Linked DNA regions of Homo sapiens: regions 1 and 3 are each linked to region 2. Evidence: fine-mapped expression QTL. A gene starts in region 2. Each other region holds a variant in brackets. All regions are shown on one strand. Distances are between the middles of the regions. Region 1 overlaps CYSTM1 (cysteine rich transmembrane module containing 1). Region 2 holds the start of PFDN1 (prefoldin subunit 1). Region 3 overlaps PFDN1 (prefoldin subunit 1).

The links. PIP is the estimated chance that this variant, and not a neighbour inherited with it, causes the effect.
Region 1: its variant is the best candidate, but not a certain one, in a credible set for the expression of PFDN1 in whole blood (TOPMed, PIP 0.54).
Region 3: its variant is the best candidate, but not a certain one, in a credible set for the expression of PFDN1 in whole blood (INTERVAL, PIP 0.64).

Annotation. Positions count from the first base shown.
Region 1 is chr5:140,196,226-140,203,506 of GRCh38, forward strand. All of the region lies in intron 2 of CYSTM1 (cysteine rich transmembrane module containing 1), which reads left to right. Among named protein-coding and RNA genes, the nearest start is that of CYSTM1, 25 kb to the left of the region's middle. The variant C/G (reference allele first, on the strand shown) is at 3,611.
Region 2 is chr5:140,299,152-140,306,432 of GRCh38, forward strand. PFDN1 (prefoldin subunit 1) reads right to left here and starts at 3,950. Exons shown (of 4, transcript NM_002622.5): 1 at 3,890-3,950; 2 at 1,265-1,431. The coding sequence starts at 3,922. RefSeq lists enhancers at 1-295, 3,687-3,966 and a silencer at 3,855-4,059.
Region 3 is chr5:140,275,159-140,282,439 of GRCh38, forward strand. It overlaps PFDN1 (prefoldin subunit 1), which reads right to left. Exons shown (of 4, transcript NM_002622.5): 3 at 6,291-6,375. Among named protein-coding and RNA genes, the nearest start is that of PFDN1, 24 kb to the right of the region's middle. RefSeq lists enhancers at 1-185, 186-686. The variant T/G (reference allele first, on the strand shown) is at 4,051.

The DNA.
Region 1 (7,281 bases), 100 kb before region 2:
ATCCTGATAGCTTGGCCTCAAAATCTGTACCTATAATTTATTGCTGTACTGTTGTTCCTCTCCTGCCTTTTCTGAGCTGACTCACATTCATCTGAATTTAGTGACTTATGCTTCCTCTTAGAGATTTTCCTGTCATTTAGTTCTTTACTAATCAAAAGTAATAACAGAATTGATGGCTAATTTTATTCTAGGACTTGATGATTCTCTAGAATAAGAATTTTGCATTCATGGAAAAGATTATACTTTTATAGTGGCAAAGCTTATACTCTGTTAAGATTGAATAGAATATTTGAATACCTTTAAAGAATTTAATTTATCTGGAAGGAAGCTTTTGCAATCCAAGATTGTGTTCTGTTGTAACAGTTTTTATCATGCATGCTCGGAAGAGGGCAGGAAGTATAACCAGTATAATCGGAGTAGTTGGTATTCAGGCCTGTGACATCAGAGAAACATTTTCTGAAAATAAACCTCAGCTTCTGGGTTTTCTGCTTCAAAATAAGGTAACCCTGTGATGAATAAAAGAAAGCAGAAAAGACTACATATGGTATGATTCCATTTATGTGAAATTCAAAAACAGACAAAAACTATGTATGATGCCAGAGATCAAAATAATGGTTACTCCTGGCTGTGGAGTTGGGAAACTAGGGTGGGACTGGTTATTCATTGGGTTAGGAACAAAGGAACTTTCTGGGGTGTTAGGAATATTCTGTATCTTAATCTTGATATAAACATTCTTCAAGATAGATAGTTATGACTTGTGTACTTTGCTGTACGTTTTATGTCAGCAGAGAAAGATAGCCCAGCATTTGAGTTATCCGGTAGACTCAACCCAATGCCTGCCTGGTGTTAGGTCTTTCACCTATAGCCCTCATGGTCTTCCTGTCCATTTCTAGGCCAATATTGTTTATACTGACTCTCTAACTAGCATTTGATGAGTTTAGAACTTTATTGAGTTTGTTTAGAATAAGTGCTTCCTAGGTTCAGTGGACTTTGTCCACTGTTCATGCAGAAAATACAGATTTGGTCATCTTTCTTACCTTTCATGTAATTTAAGTATTGATGTCAGCCTTTTTGATGAAAAATAATTTCTTAATTCTTTTTAGGGTTAAAAGGCTCCTTAGTTCAGTGTTACCAATCACGATTGATTTCACAAATGCAGTTGAAAGCTGTTTAATATCCTTTCCTATGGATATACCCAGGAATTTATTTCTCTGTCATTAGCTTGTGAATTATTAACTGCCCAGATCCTTTCTGCACCCAAACATAGCAGGTAGTGCCAAATGGTCAAATTTTGTCACCTGGGGTCCATGTTCTGTGAATGGGACTCTTGGAAGAATGTAGCCTCACTGAGTGATGAACCCTTTAGGGACCCATTTTATTCCTTGCTTTGGTATTGCTTGTGGGATTCTCAGTCAGAATTATGTGTTCTCATGCTGTGTATCTGAGCTCTATATGGAAATTTAAGCTTTTTCTTTCCAGCTGAATGATTTTAGATTTATCTACTACTGTAGATACTCTCTCCACTCAAGTTCAAGTGTGTGGCATATTATGTTAATGGATACATAGGTAGAAATGGTTTCTTTTTCAAAGGAGGGAGGATCTCCTTTATCCTTAATTGGCGTCTGGTAATTAGTTAGGGCTTAATAAAGGTGTGATGAATGGATGAGCAGGGTCGGGTAGATGGCTAACCTAAGCAGAACCTTCCTTGGTCATCTGTTTATGTTTTAGAATTCATGTGTCAGAGATTGTAGCAAAAAAACCCACCTTTTGTTTTTTTAAGAAGCCAACCTTTTGGAAGCCATGTGATTGGAAGCAGCAAGTGCTTGTAGGAATAAGGTCTCCCAGAAGAGCATACCTGCAGATTATGTCAAGGATCTCCTGGGTGGTTTTTAAGAATAACAACTAGTATTTGTTGAGCACCATGCTTGGTGTTAGCTTTATGTAATCTTCACAACAACCCCATAGTATCAGTCCCATGTTATAGGAGTGGAATCTGAGACTCAGAAAGGTTGTTTCAGTTATCTGTTGTATAACATATCACCCCCAACTCACTGGCTTAAAACAACAATGATTTATTATTTCTCATGATTCTCTGAGTTGGCTGGGAGGCTCTTCTTGCTTCGTGTGATCTTTCGTGGGGTCACTCTTGTTACTTAATTCAGCTGTCAGCCTGTCTGGGTGTAGGCTATCCAAGATGACCTCACTGACATGAGTAGGGTCTTGGTTTGCCTCCACGAGGCCTCTCTCAGCACATAGTCTGTCATCATTAGGTGGTCTAGCTTAAGCTGCTTTACATGACAACTAGCTTCCAATAGAGTGAAAGTGGAAGCTGCCAGGATTTTGGGCTAGGCCCAGAACTGGCACAGCATCACTTACCCCTTATTCCAGTATTCAAAACAAGTCTCAAGGCCAGTCACTTTCAACAGGAGGGGGAACAGATATCACCTTCCTCCTCCCCCTCTTTTTTTGGTATATTCGACATACAATTCATGTACCATACAATTTACCCATTTAAAGTTGTACAATCCAATGGTTTTCAGTATATCAACAGAGTTTTTCAACCATCACCACTATCATAATTCCAGAACATTTTCTTTTATTATTATACTTTAAGTTCTAGGATACATGTGCAGAATGTGCAGGTTTGTTACATAGGTATGCATGTGCCATGGTGGTTTGCTGCACCCGTCATCTACATTGGGTATTTCTCCTAATGCTATCCCTCCCCTAGCCCCCCAACTCCCCGACAGGCCCCAGTGTGTGGTGTTCCCCTCCCTGTGTCCATGTGTTCTCTTTGTTCAGCTCCCACTTATGAGTAAGAACATGTGGTGTTTGGTTTTCTGTTCCTGTGTTGGTTTGTTGAGAATGATGGTTTCCAGCTTCATCCATGTCCCTGCAAAGGACATGAACTCATCCTTTTTTATGGCTGCATAGTATTCCATGGTGTATATGTGCCACATTTTCTTTATCCAGTCTATCATTGATGGGCATTTGGGTTGGTTCCAAGTTTTTGCTATTGTGAATAATGCTGCAATAAACATACCTGTGCATGTGTCTTTATAGTAGAATGACTTATAATCCTTTGGGTATATACCCAGTAATGGGATTGCTGGGTCAAATGGTATTTCTGGTTCTAGATCCTTGAGGAATTACCACACTGTCTTCCACAATGGTTAAACTAATTTACGCTCCCACCAGCAGTGTAAAAGTGTTCCTATTTCTCCACATCCTCTCCAGCATCTATTGTTTCCTGACTTTTTATTGTTTTTGTTTTGTGTTTTTTGAGATGGAGTCTCACACTGTCGCCCAGGCTGGAGTGCAGTGGCGCGATCTTGACTTACTGCAACCTCCACCTCCGGGGTTCAAGCGATTCTCCTGCCTCAGCCCCCTGAGTAGCTGGGATTACAGGCATGCGCCACCATGGCTGTAATTTTTGTATTTTTAGTAGAGATGAGGTTTCACCATATTGGTCAGGCTGGTGTTGAATTCCTGACCTAGTGTTCTGCCCACCTTGGCCTCCCAAAGTGCTGGGATTACATGCGTGAGCCACGGTGCCCAGCCGTTTCCTGACTTTTTAATGATCACCATTCTAACTGGCGTGAGATGGTAT[C/G]TCATTGTGGTTTTGATTTGCATTTCTCTAATGACCAGTGATGATGAACTTTTTTTCATATGTTTTTGGACGCATAAATGTCTTCTTTTGAGAAGTGTCTGTTCATATTCTTTGCCCACTTTTTGATGGGGTTGTTTTTTTCTCATAAATTTGTTTAAGTTCCTTGTAGATTGTGGATATTGGCCCTTTGTCAGATGGATAGATTGCAAAAATTTTCTCCCATATTGTAGGTTGCCTACATATGGGATGATGATAGTTTCTTTTGCTGTGCAGAAGCTCTTTAGTTTAATTAGATCCCATTTGTCAGTGTTGGCTTTTGTTGCCATTGCTTTTGGTGTTTTAGCCATGAAGTCTTTGCCTATGCCTATGTCCTGAATGGTATTGCCTAGGTTTTCTTCTAGGGTTTTTATGGTTTTAGGTCTTACGTTTAAGTCTTTAATCCATATTGAGTTAATTTTTGTATAAGGTATAAGGAAGGGGTCCAGTTTCAGTTTTCTGCACATGGCTAGCTAGTTTTCCCAATACCATTTATTAAATAGGGAATCCTTTCCCCATTGCTTGTTTTCGTCAGGTTTGTCAAAGATCAAGTGGTTATAGATGTGTGGTGTTATTTCTGAGGCCTCTGTTCTGTTCCATTGGTCTATATACAGAACACTTTCATCACCCCAAAAAGAAACCCTTTAGCAATCTCTCCCCATTTCCTTCCACTCTTCCCCCCGGCCTTTTTTTTTTTTTTTTTTTTTGAGGCAGAGTCTCACTCTGTCGCCCAGGCTGGAGTGCAGTGGCACAATCTCGGCTCACTGCAAACTCTGCCTCCCGGGTTCACGCCATTCTCCTGCCTCAGCTTCCCGAGTAGCTGGGACTACAGATGCCTGCCACCATGCTCAGCTAATTTTTTTATTTTTAGTGGAGACGGGGTTTCACCGTGTTAGCCAGGATGGTCTTGATCTCCTGACCTGATGATCCGCCCACCTCAGCCTCTCAGAGTGCTGGGATTACAGGCGTGAGCCATCGCGCCCGGCCTCTTCCCCACCATTAATCTACTCTGTCTCTATAGATTTGTCTGTTCTGGACATTTTGTATAAATGGAACCATACAATATTTGGTCTTTTGTTACATGCTTCTTTCACTTAGCTTGATATTTCCAGGGTTCATCTATGTTGTAGCATGTATCAATACTTTATTCCTTCCTATTGCCAAATAATATTCCATTGTGGATATACCACGTTTTAGTTATCCTTTCATTGGTTGATGGGCATTTAGGTTGTTTCTACTTTATGGCTATTAGGAATAATGAATAATGGCTGTTATAAACATTTGTATAAAATAGACTCCATCCTGGAGGAATGGCATGTGAATACAGGGTGAGAGGAATTGGTGACCGTCTGTGCAAACAGTCCACCACATTCTGCCCTTTGCTCTCAACAATTTACATCCCCCTCATATGCAAAATATATCCACCCCCTTCCACCACCACTAGATGTCTCATCCAATAATTACATCAGCTTGAAATCCAGAATATTATCATCTAGGTAGTCTATATGTAGGTAAGGCCTCTAACCTGCCATACTGGTCCATATACCCTAACTTTGTTCATGCTGCTTCCTTTACTTCCCACCTCTCATTCCCACTCTGCCACAACCTACCCTACACATCTCTGGCGATCAAAAGAAAATATCTCTTCTTCCTTGAAGCTTTTGCTTACCTATACTATACCTCCAGTAGAATTTACCACTCCTATTTGCTTCAACTGCACCCTATACAGACTTCTTTCAGAGCCCTTCTTCTTGCTCCAGATTCAATAGTGTCTACCTTATGTACAGTCCATTTTAGCTTTTTTATGTCTGAATTCAATCAACCTTGCTCTTAGTGTTTAGGCTTTCACTGTTTGTTTTGGTCAAGACTCTTAAGGCTACAAGTGATAGAACCTTAGCCTTAGATATTAACCAGCAACGGAGGTTCACCAGACATCTGAGTAAAGAAAGCCTCCAAGATAAAAGATGATGATCCAAACAGAAAAAAGGGATTCTGAGGGAACAAACATTGCAGGGAGAAGAAAACCCTCCTACCAGAAAGTGGGGGAATCCTCTAATACTCTTTTTTTTTTTTTTTTTTTTTTTGACGGAGTCTTGCTCTGTCATCCAGGCTGGAGTGCAGTGGCGCAATCTCGGGTCACTGCAACCTCCGCCTCCCAGGTTCAAGTGATTCTCCTGTCTCAGCCTCCCGAGTAGCTGGGATTACAGGCATACGCCACCAAGCCCAGCTAATTTTTGTATTTTTAGTAGAAATGGGATTTCACTGTATTGGCCAGGCTGGTCTCAAACTCCTGACCTCAGGTGATTCACCCTCCTCGGCCTCCTAAAGTGCAGGGATTACAAGCATGAGTCACTGCGCCTGGCCTGCTAATATTCTTAAGTTATACTGAAGATAAATCTTATTGAAATAAGAGCAGTGGTACTGTATAAAATGAACTCTGGAAACAAAAGCACTTAGCAAAGAACAATGTGAAACTGATCTCACCCTAAGGATTAGATCCAAAAGGTCCATTTGGCAGCCAGATCTTGCCAGAGCAGAATTTAAGGCATTTGCCATAGGTGGAAGGTTGATGTATGTTTTGGTTATCTATTGTTACGTCACAAACCACCCCCAATCTTAGAGGTTCCATAATTTGGACAGGGCTTGAGCAGAAAGATTGATTCATCTCTGCTCCTTGTTGGCACCTACTGAGGCTGGAACGTAGATAATGATAAGCAATTTGCTGGGTTGGATTTGTACACTTTCTACCGTCCAATATGATCCATCAACTTTCTTCTTGGCTTTGTATTATGTCCAAAAGGGTACTCTTGGATTGACTTACACTTGCAATACAGAGAAAGAAGCCATTTGGTTTGGCCAGTGCTTTAGAAGGGAGAAAGGGGTGGGAGCATGATGTCCAACTGCTGGGAGGGGTCAGGAGGCACCTACATGCTAGTATTTCTGTGTGCATTCCAAACCAGTGTTGGGTTTCTCCACTTCTACTGGCTTTGTTTGATCTTATTGTCCTTGAAGATTTGATTAACTTCAACCCTATTCTGTCAGCTGTTTCAGTTCCAATGGAACCTTGTAATTCTGGCTCATTATAACAAGAAATTATCTCAAATCCAAAAAGAAAAAAAAATCACGTCTGGTATTTCAGCTGACATGATTGAAACAGCGTAGGGTTGGTTGTCTCTGTCCCTCTGCATGGTCTCTCAGTGCTGCTGTCACAGCATGAGAGTTTCAGAGTAGGTGGGTTTTTTCCATGTTACAATGCAAGAATGGAATCTGCCAGGCCTTCCTGCACATGTACCCCTGAACATAAAATAAAAGCCTTAAAAAAGAAATGAAACAAAAAACTTTCGATTTAACTTCTAATTTTGAAACAATTTCAGACTTAGAAAAACATTGCAAAGATAATACAAATGGTTCTGTATACCTTTCATCCCGATTTCCCCAAACCTTACATAGCCACAATACAATGATCCATCAGGCTTTTTCACCCCCTTGGCTCAGAAGTCACACAATGTCACATCCATCACACTCTTGGTCAAAGCAACATGAAGTCTATCTAGCCTAGTTTCAAGGGGAGGAAAATAGACTTCATTCCTTGTTGGGAGAGTGGTAAGTCACATTGCAAAAAGGCATATGGGATG
Region 2 (7,281 bases):
AGCAGGGAAGAGGAGGTTAAAACTGCACCTACTTAAATAAATCTTCTTCACATACAATATAATATTGCTATAAACATTTTCCATGACAAATCATTTTTATTACTGAACTTACACTTAAGTACCTAATCATAGACAGAACAGGAAAGTAAGCACTTAAGAAATGTACTTTGAGGCCAGGGGCGGTGGCTCACGCCTGTAATCCCAGCACTGTGGGAGGCCAAGGCGGGCGGATCAAGAGGAGAGATTGAGACCATCCTGGCCAACACGGTAAAACCCCATTTCTACTAAAAATACAAAAATTAGCCGGGCATGGTAGCATGCGCCTGTAGTCCCAGCTACTCAGGAGGCTGAGGCAGAATTGTTTGAACCCAAGAGGCGGAGGTTGCAGTGAGCCAGAATCACACCACTGCACTCTAGCCTGGCAACAGAGCGAGACTCTGTCTCAAAAAAAAAAAAAAAATGTACTTTAAAGTCTAAACTTAAACACTTTAATTAATCTACCTGAAGTTCAGCTCCTCATTTTAAAAAAAGAAAGCATTTAATTAGATAATCTTTAAAGTTATTTCTAAGATACTTTAACCTGCCGGGTGTGGTGACTCATATCTGTAATCCAGCACTTTGGGAGGCTGAGGTGGGCGGATCAGGAGGTCAGGAGTTCCAGACCATCCTGGCAAATATGGTAAAACCCCGTCTCTACTAAAAACACAAAAATTAGCAGGGCGTGGTGGCAAGCGCCCGTAATCCCAGTCACTCAGGAGGCTGAAGCAGGGGAATCGCTTGAACCCAGGAGACGGAGATTGCAGTGAGCCAAGATCGGGCCATTGCACTCCAGCCTGGGCGATATAGCGAAAACTCCGTCTCAAAAAGAAAAAGATACTTACTTTAAACCAAAGTTTCTTTTGTTTTGAGACAGAGTCTAGCTCTGCTGCCCAGGCTGGAGTGCAGTGGCATGATTTCGGCTCACTGCAACCTCCACCTCCGGGGTTCAAGCGACTCTCCTGCCTCAGCCTCCCAAGTAGCCAAGACTACAGGCAAGTGCCACCATGCTCAGCTAATCTTTGTATTTGTGGTAGATACAGGGTTCCACCATACTGGCCAACAGGCTGCCCTCAAGTGATCCACTCGCCTCGACCTCCCAAAGTGCCAGGATTACAGGCATGAGCCACCACTCCTGGCCTAACCCAAGTTTTAAGATGAACAAATTCTATTTAACTCGGACAAAAGCACTCCCAAAATAACTCCATTAAGGACACATTTTACTTACATTCTTCCTACACCTTCATACATGTTAGTCTCATCTACCAAAGTCATGATCTCTGTATCTGTAAGATGTGCATGCTTTTTCGTTCTGTTTAGCTGTTCAATCTGTATGTCTGCGAGCTTCACCTTCTGTTGAGTGTCAATAACTTTGGCTTGAAGCTCTGTGAAGGCCTAATAAAAACAAGTCCATGATTTAGTAGGTAAAACATTTTACAGGAAACATTTACCTCAAATCCAAATATATTAAAACAAAATATGCTAGCCAGAGACAAAGCTGTGAAATTTACCAAACATCAATAAAAGTCAACATAACTGTAAACAATCAAGTCACCATACTAAATACTGAATTTACAATCATCAGAAGATACAATCAGTGTGAAGCAAATCAAATGCATATTAAGTAATAACCATATTAAGTAGCAAGTACTCAAGGAGTAGTAAAAGAAATAAATGCAATAGTCAAGGATGAAATCCAGAGATTCAAAACAAGAACCATAAAAGTAATAACTCACTACATTTGTATTGCACAATTAGGTTTCAAAGCACTTTCTCACATTAGTTTGAAATATTAACATGGGAATATTAATATAAGAATATTAATGAGGAAATATAATAAATATCTCATTTATGCCTCTCAGTAATTCCATGAGTTAGCATTGGCAGTCTCATCATCCACAATTTACAAATTAAGTAACCAAATGAGTTAAGAGATAAAAGTGGCTTGCACAAGGTTGAACAACTACTGGGGGGAAGGCAGGTGTTATTTAAATCCATTTCTTCTAACCCCTTAGTTCAGCAATCTTTCCATTCCACTGTCTATAGTAATATTCATAATATGAACATTTTTAAGAGGAAGACCAAGAAAGAGAGTGAGAAAAAATGCAAAGCACTGGCAAAAGAATTGCATCATGATCTTCATCCACAGATACCAGGCCAAATTTGACCCTTGCGTACACTTACTTAACTGGAAGATAAACAGTTCTTGGATACTTTTGTTGAAGTGCCTGGAATGACTTTCACATGCTGTTAAATTTGTGCCTTAATAACATCTGTGACTGCAATGCACAGCAAAGGCTACTACATAATTTTTATTGTGACCTTGTTTTCACCTACTAGTAAGGTTTTGAAAGATTTACTTTGGGGAAGGGGAGGGGCCTGAAATTTCCTATTTGTCTCCACCCAAAAAAAGGACCCTGTAAAAACATTAGAAGATAAAACCTTTAAACAAGTTTTTTAATTAATTGGTTATCAAAATTATTCATTTTAAGTTTGTAATCATTTTCTTAGTTTGCATTCACCGCCCGCAAGTTTCAAATGTAGCAATAAATTCAAAAGTACCGGGAGGCAAATCCATTCACTAAACCCTGATTTAAATCGGTACTTTTAACAGAAGAAAAGGTAAATTTTTAGAATGCACAATTTTGTTTTGAAATGTAAAATTCCAGGTATCATCTGACTGCTCTATACAGCTTGCTAAGGAAGCTAGTATACCATTAAAGATGAGCTAGTATACTGTTAAAGATTAGAGACTCCACCTAAGAGCTAAATTTACAAGATTCAAGACAAGAAGAACAAAAGCAAGACACAAACACATAATATCCTCACAACACTAACAAAAGCTTCATTTGTTAGAAGCAACAGCTATTTCGGCTGTCCTATTTCTTTTACACAAGTTGACCACAGGCAGTCTTAACTAAGATGTTGCTCATCTGAAGAACTCAAAATAGTGGTCAAAAAAGTGTGAGATAAGGCAGAGAATACTGGATTCTAGTCCCAACTTCTGACAGACTTTTCTGGCACTGGTTCCTTTTCCAGAAAAGTAGATTTAAAATAGATAAATTCTAGGGTCCTTTCCAATCCACCCCACCGCACAAAGCATACTGGTTTGGGGTCATTAGTGGTGTTAGAATGCTGATCATTCTTAGATAGCAAAAATCTGAATAACAACACATTTATAAGCAACTGAGGAAAACAGGAAACCCAATTCCTTCCGATACCGGTTTTATTTGGAAAACTTTACTGGTTTTGTTTTGTTTTTGACAATTCCTTCAAAAGAAGGAGGTTTTGTTTTGTTTTGTTTGACGAGTCCTTCAAAAGAAGTGGAGGGGGGGCAAAATCCTGAAATGAACATTGCTGCTACAATGCTTGGTTTTCCGAACTGTAGATATTGCAACTTTCAAGGTACAGAACCGAATAAATGGCCTAAAAACAAAGGTTGGACTTGGAGTTTTTCAAAGCAAATGAGGCAGAATTACGGATGCCACAGCTCAGGCAAGGGGTCCGAAGGGACCCCCATTTGAAATGCTCTCTTTAGTTCTTACTATGAAAGTGAGTCCCTGAAGCCTCCAAACGCAACGAAATGTCTCTGGAGCTCAGAAAGACTGGACAAGCCCGAGACAGGCCCGCAGACTTACCCGACCCAGACCAACCGGCTCCTACCCAGCAAGAGCCGCTCGCCCCCCACCCCGTTTATGGAGACCCAGTGAGGCCTTAGGACTCTGGGAAACCATTCCCTAGTCCACTGGACCCTCCTTCCTTCTGCAAGGCTCGTGCCTCACTTGATATTCTTGTCTATAGTCCCCTCAGCCTCCAAAAAGAAGACCTCCGCCTGCCAAAGACCCTCTTTTACCTTCTTCAGCTCTAGATCCACGGGGGCGGCCATCTTGGTGCACTGTAAGCGCCTGCGCAGTGGGAGTTGGACTGAAATAGGGTGGGGAAGGGCGCGTCTTACTTTGTGCGCCGGTCTTTCTTCTGCGCCTGCGCATGAGTTGGACTAACCGGGCTTCTTATCTTTCTCTGAGAATTGACTCCTGAAATATTTGGGTTTCGGATTCCGTGTCTTCACTACCTGACCGGTCAGGTCTGGCTTGCTCCTCCGTATCTTCCAGACATAGCCCAACGCGCAGATTTCCCATGTGGCTTTAAGCAGTTTGCCAGCTAGCTTAATATGTGCTGCTAAATTGAGATGTATGTAGATGAGGTCAAACCCTCATCAGTCGATCAGTCCTTCAGCTAGTCGCTGTGCTCTCAGGAATGAGTAAGAGTAAGTCCAGAACCTCAGGCATGACAGTTTGGGAAAGACTATTGGAAAGCTTGTCTGGAGTGTTCTTTCCAAAACGAACTTATTACTTCCAAAAGCTTCCCAAAGACATTCTAGGCACAGTGGTTCTCAAGAGAGGCTGAATACGTTTGTTTAAAAACAAAAAAATGCAGGTTCTCTGGGTCTCATCTCAAACGTACTCAGAATCTTTGAGAATGGGGTCTGGAAATTTGCACTTTTGCAGACTACCCCAGTGACCTAATGGTGCAACTCCTCCGCGGATCACTTTTTTGAGAATCTCTGCCATAAAAGGACCTGGCATTTGAACCAGAATAGATAATAATTGACTTTTGGAAATGGAAAAAAAAGTTAACCTACTCTAAAAACTGTTATGCTAAGAGAAAGTGCTACATAAATAATTAGGAAATTTATTTTATTTTTTAAAAAAAGAAAGAAAGAGAGAAAGAAAACAAACTGTTAGGGAGATGAAAGGGCAGGGAATTTGGAACCAGCCTAATCTAGATTCAAGGCTTGGTCTGCCTTTAGCCTATGTCTGGTTCCATTTACTAATTGTGTGACTTTAAGCAAGTCACTTGGATATTTTGTGGGGTTTTTTTTTTTTTTTGTACGTTTGTTTGTTTCTTGAGACAGGATCTTGCTCTGTCACCCAGGCTCGAGTGCAATGGTGCAATCACGACTCACTCCAGCCTCTACCTCCCGCGCTCAAGCGATCCTCCCACCTCAGCCTCGTGAGTAGCGCTGGGACTACAGGCGCGCGCCACCCACACTCAGCTAATTTTTATATTTTTGTACAGACGGGTTTTCACCTTGTTGCCCAAGCTGGTCTCAAACTCCTGAGCTCAAACAATCCGCTCGCCTTGGTCGCCCAAAGTGCTGTAGTGCTTTGATATTAAAGGCTTGAGCCACCGCACCCGGCCACATTTTTTTTTTTTTTTTTTTTTTGAGCCAGGGTCTCGCTCTGTCACCCAGGCTGGAATGCAGTGGCACGATCTCGGCTCACTGCAACCTCTGCCTCCCAGGATCAAGTGATTCTCCTGCCTCAGCCTCCCGAGTAGCTGGGATTACAGGCGCCTGCCACCACGCCCGGCTAATTTTTGTAGTTTTGGTAGAGACGGGTTTCACCGTGTTGCCCAGGCTGGTCTCCAACTCCCAGCCTCAAGTGATCCGCCTGCCTCGGCCTCCCAAAGGGCTGGGATTACAGGCAAGCCACCACGTCCAGCATCTGCCACCTATTTTTAATGAGCTTCAGTCTTCTCATGTTTGAGAGTGACCATATTGACCTAACAGGGTTATTGTGAGAAATAAATGAGATCAGGATAAAAAGCTCCAAACATAGCTCCATGCACACAAGTAGATACTCAATAAATCACTGGTGTTAATCGCCGTCCTGTTTGTCTTTCAAAGTCCAGCAAATGGGCACTACATCCCCCATCACACAGAGCAAAGATAATCTCTCCTCTGAACTCCCCTCACAACATCTATTTCTCTCTCAAGGCATATAACACTGTCTACCTTTTTTTAGAAAACATTTTTCTTAGACTGTAAGCTCCTTGAAATCAAGAACTATGGAATAATGGTTCTTCCACCTCTTGTACCTAGAACACCTGTCACAGTGCATCACGGGAAAAAAATACAAAATGGATACTGGATGTGAATAAATTATTCTGGAAAAAAAAAAGAAGACTCATTCCTCCCCAATTTGAGAAAGAGTAAAAAGGATCTGATATTTTGATTCTCTGGGACCTTCTTAGATTCTCATTACAGATGATCAATAAATACTGACTGATTAGCCAGGCATGGTGGCATGCCCCTGTAGTCCCAGCTACTCAGGAGGCTGAGGCAGGAGAATTGTGTGAGGCCTGGAGGCCAAGGCTGCAGTGAGTGGGGATCAATTGTGTCATTGCACTCCAGCCTGAAAGACAGAGTGAGACCTTGTCTCAAAAAATAAAATAAAATAAAATAAAATAAAATAGTGATTGAATATTGAAATTCAAAAAAAGTCTGAAATACTGTCCTGTACATTACCTCATGAGACTTTTGAAAGAGTCCTCATAGAGATGTATGGACTGTAAAAGTTAAGAGCCTGGGCTAAGCTGTCAGACAACCTGGGTACAAATACTGATTATACTACTTAAGGGTAATATGATCTTAGGCAAGAGTCTTCTCTGCATTGTTTGTTTGGTCATTGTTTCTCTTTGTGTATTTGTATACTACTTCTTCCTCATGAGTTTAATTTCCTTTTTTTTTTTTTTTCTTTTTTGAGACATGGTCTCATTCTGTCACCCAGGCTAGAGTGCAGTGGTTCAATCTCAGCTCACTTCAGCCTCCACCTCCCGGGTTCCAGCAATTCTCCTGCCTCAGCCTCCCTAGTAGCTTGGATTACAGGTGCATGTCACCACCTGGCTACTTTTCGTATTTCTTGTAAAGATGGGGTTTCACCATGTTGGCCAGGCTGGTCTTGAACTCCTGACCCCAGGTGATCCACCTGCCTCAGCCTCTCAAAGTGCTGGGATTACAGGCATGAGCCACTGCACCCAGCCTAATTTCCTTCATGATAAAGGAAATCCTTCAGTAGGTTCTTTTAGTAAGAATGTCTGATAAGTAAATTCTCTTCATCTTTGTTTTACAGGTTGAATTGTGCCCCCCACAAAAGATATGTTGAAGTCCTAACTCCCAGTACCTCAGAATGTGACCCTATTTGAAAGTAGGGTTTTGGGACAGGCGTGGTGGCTCATACCTATAATCCTAGCAGTTTGGGAGACTGAGGCGGGAGGATTCTTTGAGCCCATGAGTTTGAGACCAGCCTGGACAATAGGGCGAGACCTCATCTCTACAAAAAATAAAAAAAATTAACCGAGTGTGGTGGCAGTTATCTATATTCCCAGTTACTTGGGAGGCTGCAATAGGTGCATTGCTTGAGCCCAGGAAATTGAGGCTCCAGTAAGCTATGATCTACCACT
Region 3 (7,281 bases), 24 kb before region 2:
AGCACTTTGGGAGGCCAAGGCAGGCAGATCACGAGGTCAGAAGATTGAGACCATCCTGGCTAACACGGTGAAACCCTGTCTCACTAAAAATACAAAAAAAATTAGCTGGGCATGGCGGGGTGTGCCTGTAGTCCCAGCTACTCGGGAGGCTGAAGCAGGAGAATGGTGTGAACCTGGGAGGCGGAGCCTGCAGTGAGCCGAGATTGCGCCACTGCACTCCAGCCTGGGAGACAGAACGAGACTCTGTCTCAAAAAAAAAAAAAAAAGACAGTGCTTGTGTTTATTCTGCTAATAAGGAATATGACTCCCTATCAAGATTAACATGAGGGCAAGTAGTACCCCCACCCCTGCCTATAAGAGACAAGGGCCAGTAGATGAGGCCACTTGGCTGGCTGATGACATAGGGCACAACATGACAAAGCTACAAAAAGCTAAACAAAGTCTAGGTAAGCTTTGCACTCATAAATAAGATCAGAAAAAAGAAATCAGGAGAGGGCAAGTATAAAGAAACAGAAAGAACAAAGCTGGGTAAAAGGGAACCTAGCAAATACTAATGAAAATGGGGTATCAGGTTAGAGAACCTGAATCAGACCAGCACCTATGTCATGGAAAAGGTTTGTCCCTCCTGCCATCTACACAAACTGTGGGTAGAGGGTGGGGAAGCATACTCGGTGGGCCAAATCAGTAAAACAAGTTAACAGCTTTTATCAAAAACTGGAACTCTGACCCCAACCAATATGAACCTTACTCTTTCAGAGATGAAAACATGATAAATAGAAATAGCATGGCCTTTGTCTACAGAGTTGGGTATAAATTGTGCCTCCCCAACTTAATACAGGGTATCTCAGAAGAGAAATTGATGATGATGATGATGATGATGATGATGATGATGATGATGATGATAATTACAGAGGATTAAAATGAAGTAGATTAGACTGACAAGAAATACTAGGTCTAGAAGAAGAGACTGCAGATTTGAAAACAGGAGCAACACCAAGGACTTGGGGAAAATCATTTAGAGCTCTAAATCTGTATCAAGCTTCCAAAGTAATAGGAAACCATATTTATGATTTACTCAACTGGTGAGAGTTTATATTTCCAAATCCCTACAATGTGCTAAGAAACTAACAGAGTAACCAGAGAACACAAGAAAGAAGCAGCTAACTTAAGACTGAGGAATCAGAAAATGGTTCTCAGGAGAAGTAATTCTATGCTAAGATCTGAAGGATTAGTAGATGGAATTGATAAAGGCAGAGGGAGGAAGTTCCCAAGTGGAGATAACTACTTTTCGAAGATCTAGCAGAATGAAAAAAGAGCAAGCTCCAAAGACTGAGAGTATTGGCCAAGTGTGGTGGCTCATGCCTGTAATCCCAGCACTCTGGGAGGCAGAGGTGGGTGGATCATCTGAGGTCAGGAGTTCAAGACCAGTCTGGCCAACATGCAAAACCCTGTCTCTACTAAAAATACAAAAATTAGCTGGGCGTGGTGGCACACACCTGTAATCCCAGAAGGGATCTCCTGCTGAGGCAGGAGAATTGTTCCAACCCAGGAGGCAGAGGTTGCTGTGAGCCAAGATAGCGCCACTGCACTCCAACCTGGGTGACAGAGTGAGACACCGTCTCAAAAAAAAAAAAAAAAAAAAAAAAAGACTGAGAGTATTTTTGCATGGCTAAAGCATACAGTATAACAGAAGGCAGAGGAAATGAGAGGGATGAGAGAAATAAACAGAAATCATATCTTTAAAGGCCTTCAAGGTATGTTAAAAAGTTTGAACTGGTTGGGCACAGTGGCTCACTCACACCTATAATCCTAGCACTTTGGGAGGCCAAGGCGGGCAGATCACCCGAGGTCAGGAGTTCGAGACCAGGCTGGCCAAAATGTTGAAACCCCGTCTCTACTAAAAATACAAAAAAATTAGCTGGGCATAGTGGCACATGCCTGTAGTCCCAGCTACTCAGGAGGCTGAGGCAGGCAGGAGAATCACTTGTACCCAGGAGGTGGAGGTTGCAGTGAGCCAAGATCATGCCATTGCACTACAGCCTGGGCAACAAGATCAAAACTCCGTCTCAAAAAAAAAAAAAAAGTTTGAACTTAACCCTAAGAACAACTATTGGTTTTACATGAGAGAGTAATATGATCAGATTTAACATTTTAGAAAGGTCATTCTAACTTAAATATGTTATAAAAAGAACTGAACGAGAGAAGGCTGGATATGGTAAAATCAGTTAATATCCTACTGCAGATGGTGGTGGCAGCCAGTTCAAAGGTGGGGAAAAATTCCAAAAGGAAATATCATTAATAAACAAAATAAGGAAGAAGTAATCTTCAGAAATACAAATTTTCCAGAATTTATTAAAAAAAAAACACTAATCCTCAGATTCAGGAAACCCAACAAATTCTAACTAAGATAAAGAAAAAAATATTAGCCACGCGTGGTAGCATGCCTGTGGTCTCAGCTACTTGGGAGGCTGAGGTGGGAGGATTGCTTAAGCCTGGGAGGTGGAGGCTGCAGTGAGCTGAGATCACCCAACTACAAGCCAACCTGAGTGACAGAGTGAGACCCCATCTCAAATTAAAAAAAAAAAGAAAAGGAATAAATCGACACCTAAACACATCCCAGAGAAACTACAAAGCATGAAAGACATAGACAAGTAAAAACAGGTAAAGAGAAAAGACAAATTAACAACAATTAGACTAACAGATGACTTCTTAACAGCAACAGTGGAAGCCACAAGTCAGTAGAATGGTTATCTTTAAAAGAGCTGACAGGTCAGGTGCTGTGGCTCACACCTGTAATCCCAGCACTTTGGGAGGCTGAGGTGGGGAGATCACTGGAGGTCAGGAGTTCAAGACCAGCCTGGCCAACATGGTGAAACCCAAACCCCGTCTCTACTAAAGATACAAAAAGTAGCCAGGCATGGTGGCTGTAATCCCAGCTACTCAGGAGGCTGATGCAGAAGAATCGCTTGAACCCAGAAGGCGGAGGCTGCAGTGAGCCAAGATCATGCCACTGCACTCCAGCCTGGACAACAGAGCAAGATGCCATCTCAAAACAATAAAAAATAAATAAATATAAACAGAAGAGCTGAGAAATTCCTAACATAAAACAAAATAAGACATACGCCCCAGTCAGGCATGGTGGCTCACACCTGTAATCCCAGCACTTTGGGAGGCCAAGGTGGGTGGATCACAAGGTCAGGAGTTCGAGACCAGTCTGGGCAACATGGTGAAACCCCATCTCTACTAAAAATACAAAAATTAGCCAGGCATGGTGGGCCTGTAGTCCCAGGTACTCAGGAGGCTGAGGCAGAAGAATCGCTTGAACCTTTGGGGCAGAGGTGGCAGTGAGCCAAGACACACCACTGGACTCCAGCCTGGGACAGAATGAGACTCTGTCTCAAAAAAAAAAAAAAAAAAAAAAAAAAAAAACAAAAAACAAAACATAAGCTCCAAACTTCGTATACAGTAATAATGAGCACTTGCCCCCCCAACACTGTATTCTCTAAATATCACTGCCCACTAAACTGACAGATTAAGGAGAAATTGATAAACACTGTCATAGAGGAAGATTCATCACATCTCTCAGTAACTAAATGAATAAGCAGATGATAATTCAGTAAGATACACACAAAATTTGAACATCACAATTAACAGTGTATATGTGCATAAGTGCACATGTGGGGGTGTGCTGAAGTAATAAAACCATAAAGTTGTAGCAGTGGAAAAGTATAGGATTGTTTCAGAGAAGAGAGGGGAGTATACACTGGGTGATACTGTTAAAAGCACAGATTAGGGAAGTACTGGAGAACATATTAAATGCTGAAATAAGGCTCATGGTAAGGAGCCCATGATGATGGGAATCAAAAAAAGAAATTGTATATAAACTGGAGTTATATTACTAAAGTAGCAAGATAAACTGTCAAATGATGGAAAACAGTATATATAGCATAATTCCTATTTTAAAAAAAGGTTGTGTATATATATGCATGTATGAATGTCTTGATATAAATATAGAAGTTTGGAATGATACAGAAACCGTAGAGGTGACAT[T/G]TGGATGTACCGAGGGTGGAAAAACAAAGTAATATTTTCATTGTTTAATCATTTGTTTTATATTTTATTTATGGTGTACTTCTATTGCTTTTATAATGTAAGTAACATGTAAAATGAAAAATTAAAAAAGAAAAAAGAACTTCCTAAAAGATAAAACATTCTACCAGTATTTGAGACACTCAACAAAAGGAAACTTGCAGAAAGTAAATTTCTTAATATTCACCAGAACTCAGCAGTACGGTATTGATAAAATCATCACCTGTGGCAATTTCACCTTGATAATTGGGGTTTTTGTGTTTTTTTTTTTCCCTAAAGAGACAAGGTCTTGTTATGTTGCGCAGGCTGGAATGCCTCAGGCAATCCTCCCGCTTCAGCCTCCCGTAGCTGGGACTACAAGCATTTGCCACTGTGCCCACTCTGCTAATTTTTTAATCATGAAAGTTAACAACAAAAAAAGTTAATGTATACTTGTTATAATTTATTATTACAGAGATTGTAAGAAAAAAATCAAGGCCAGGCGCAGTGGCCTATGATTCCCAGCACTTGGGAGGCCGAGGCAGGCAGATCATCTGAGGTCGGGAGTTCGAGACCAGCCTGACCAACAAGGAGAAATCCCATCTCTACTAAAAACACAAAATTAGCAGGGCGTGGTGGCGCATGCCTGTAATCCCAGCTACTTGGGAAGCTGAGACAGGAGAATCGCTTGAAGCCAGGAGGCGGAGGTAGCAGTGAGCCGAGATCACACCATTGCACTTCAGCCTGGGCAACAAGAGCGAAACTCCGTCTCAAAAAAAAAAAAAAAAAACAAAAAAAGAAAAGAAAAGAAAAGAAAGAAAGAAAAAGAAAAAATCATTTATCCCTACGTCCCATCTAATTTCTTTAGGGTAAACAGTATTAACAATTTAATATATATCCTTACATATCATCTTCAATATTCATACACAAATGTTTGTTTTTTGTTTTCATAAAGAGAATTATATACATATTACCTTGCTACTTATTATTCATTAGGATAATTTTAAATATATTTACCTACAGTTGCAAAAATGCATTTTGTTTTATCTACATGAAATGATTCTGTTTGGGTTTTTAAAGATACTTTTGTTTCTTATGAGTGAAAACACAGATATCAAACTGAACCTCTTAGAACAGTTGAGCTGATTAAAATGTTAAAATAGGACACAACAACAATCTGGTTATCACAGGCTGTTTTTTCTTTACTTGGTTTTTTTGCTTTTTTGTCTTGTTTTTACAATACACTTTTCTAAGCTGCAAATCTATTATCAAGTTTGTTTCAACTATCAGTAGTTAAAAATAAGCCTAAGTAACCTAAGATACTGCATACTCCCAGGCCAGGCCAATTCAGTGCCCCTAAGAAATCCTCAGGAGGCTACAAGTTGTAGCTCCCAAATTCAGCAGAGGGCTGAGTTAGATTCTGATCCTCTGCCTCAAATAGTACTTACAGAAATTAGATGAAATGACCTATGAAGTCAATGTATCCACCCACATGTTGGGAAATCTTGGTCCCTAAGAAATAACCAGCTTTTTGTCCAGTCTAACTTTTACTATACACAGGATGGGCCTTTCACCAAAGCCCAAGAAGAATATCTCACTAAAGGTCTTAATGTATAAATAAATTATAATAATAAAAATAATAAAGTAATATTTCCAAAGATTTGCTTACTGTTACCTATCATCTTTTTCCCTAGCTAAAAAGAAAAAATTGTTCTCATTGGAGCACCATCCTTCAGATAGTTAATTGGTTATAGCTTGCTACTTTGTCCTTATATAGAACCTAATTTAGGTTAAAGAAATTACAATGTGTAAAAAAGACCCTATACCAAGATCCTCTAAAATTTATCATTATTACCCACTCTCCTGCCCATCCACCACAATCCACTACACAAGTGTTGTTTAAATATACATTACATTTTGTTTATGGTTTTGTTTTTTTTAAAGAATAAACACATTCAAGGGCAATGAACAAAATACATTCAGGTTAAAACCATCTCATCAAAATTCTCTGCAGTTCCAAAGAAGAGACTATTCTTTTTTTTTTGTTTTGGTCTTATATGCGCTATGAATATGAATATGACAGCTTCACGGCTCCAACGTAATTATAGAAAATAAAAATAATATGACATTACTTTGGCAGGCAGGCATACATTTTCATTTAATATGACACAATAAGATTACTACTTTCTCCCAAAAGTTAACTCCTATTGCCAATAAAAACTTACTTCTAGTTCTTTAATTTTTTCTTCTGCTATTTTCTGCTTCTCTAACAGCTGACTGTGAATTGCTTCCTTGGACTGAAGAATAAACCTATGAAACACAAGAAAGTTGAAAATTAAGCCACATGACTATTGAATTCATCGAAATCAATAGCTACATACTACAAATATTAAACTGAGCAAATTAAAAGGACAAATGCATATTAACATAATACGTCAAGCTCAGGAAACCACCAGAAGTTTAAACCTTCTTGGCTGAGAAGGAATAAAGGCTTAAAAGTAGATTCTGCTTTCTTATTTAATATAGGAATCAGGCAGGGAACAGTGGTGTGGGCCTACAGTCCCAGATACTCAGGAGGCTGAGGTGGGAGGATTGTTTGAGCCCAGGTGTCTGAGTCTAGTCTGGGCAACATAGCAAGACCCTGTCTCATTAAAAAAAAAAGCGGGGGGGTTGCGGGAGTTGGGCACAGTGGCTCACACCTGTAATCCCAGCACTCTGAGAGGCCGAGGCAGGAGGACTGCTTGAGCCTGGGAGTTCAAGACTAGCCCAGGCAACATGATGAGACCCATCTCTACAAAAAATAAATTTAAAATATTAGTCAGGCACAGTGGCACACGCCTGTAGTCCCAGCTACTAGGGAGGCTGAGGTGGGAGGATCAATTGAGACTGAGATATCAAAGCTGTAGTGAGCCATGATTGTGCTACTGCACTCCAGCTTGGGTAACAGAGCAAGATCCTGTCTTAAAAACATTAAAAAAAAAAAAAAAAAGAAAAGAAAATCAGGCTTCAAGTAGATTCATATGTAAAAGAAAAAATAATAAAGGAATAAAAATATATCATACGCTAAGAGAAAAGTCAACATACAAACAAATACCCTATAAGTTTTGTTTTTTCAGTTATCTGTTTCAATTTTTATCTAGATATTTTTTAAACTATATTTGTAAAGTGGAGCGCCCCTCCATTTTTTTTTTTTTTTTGTAACAGCAGTAACTCATG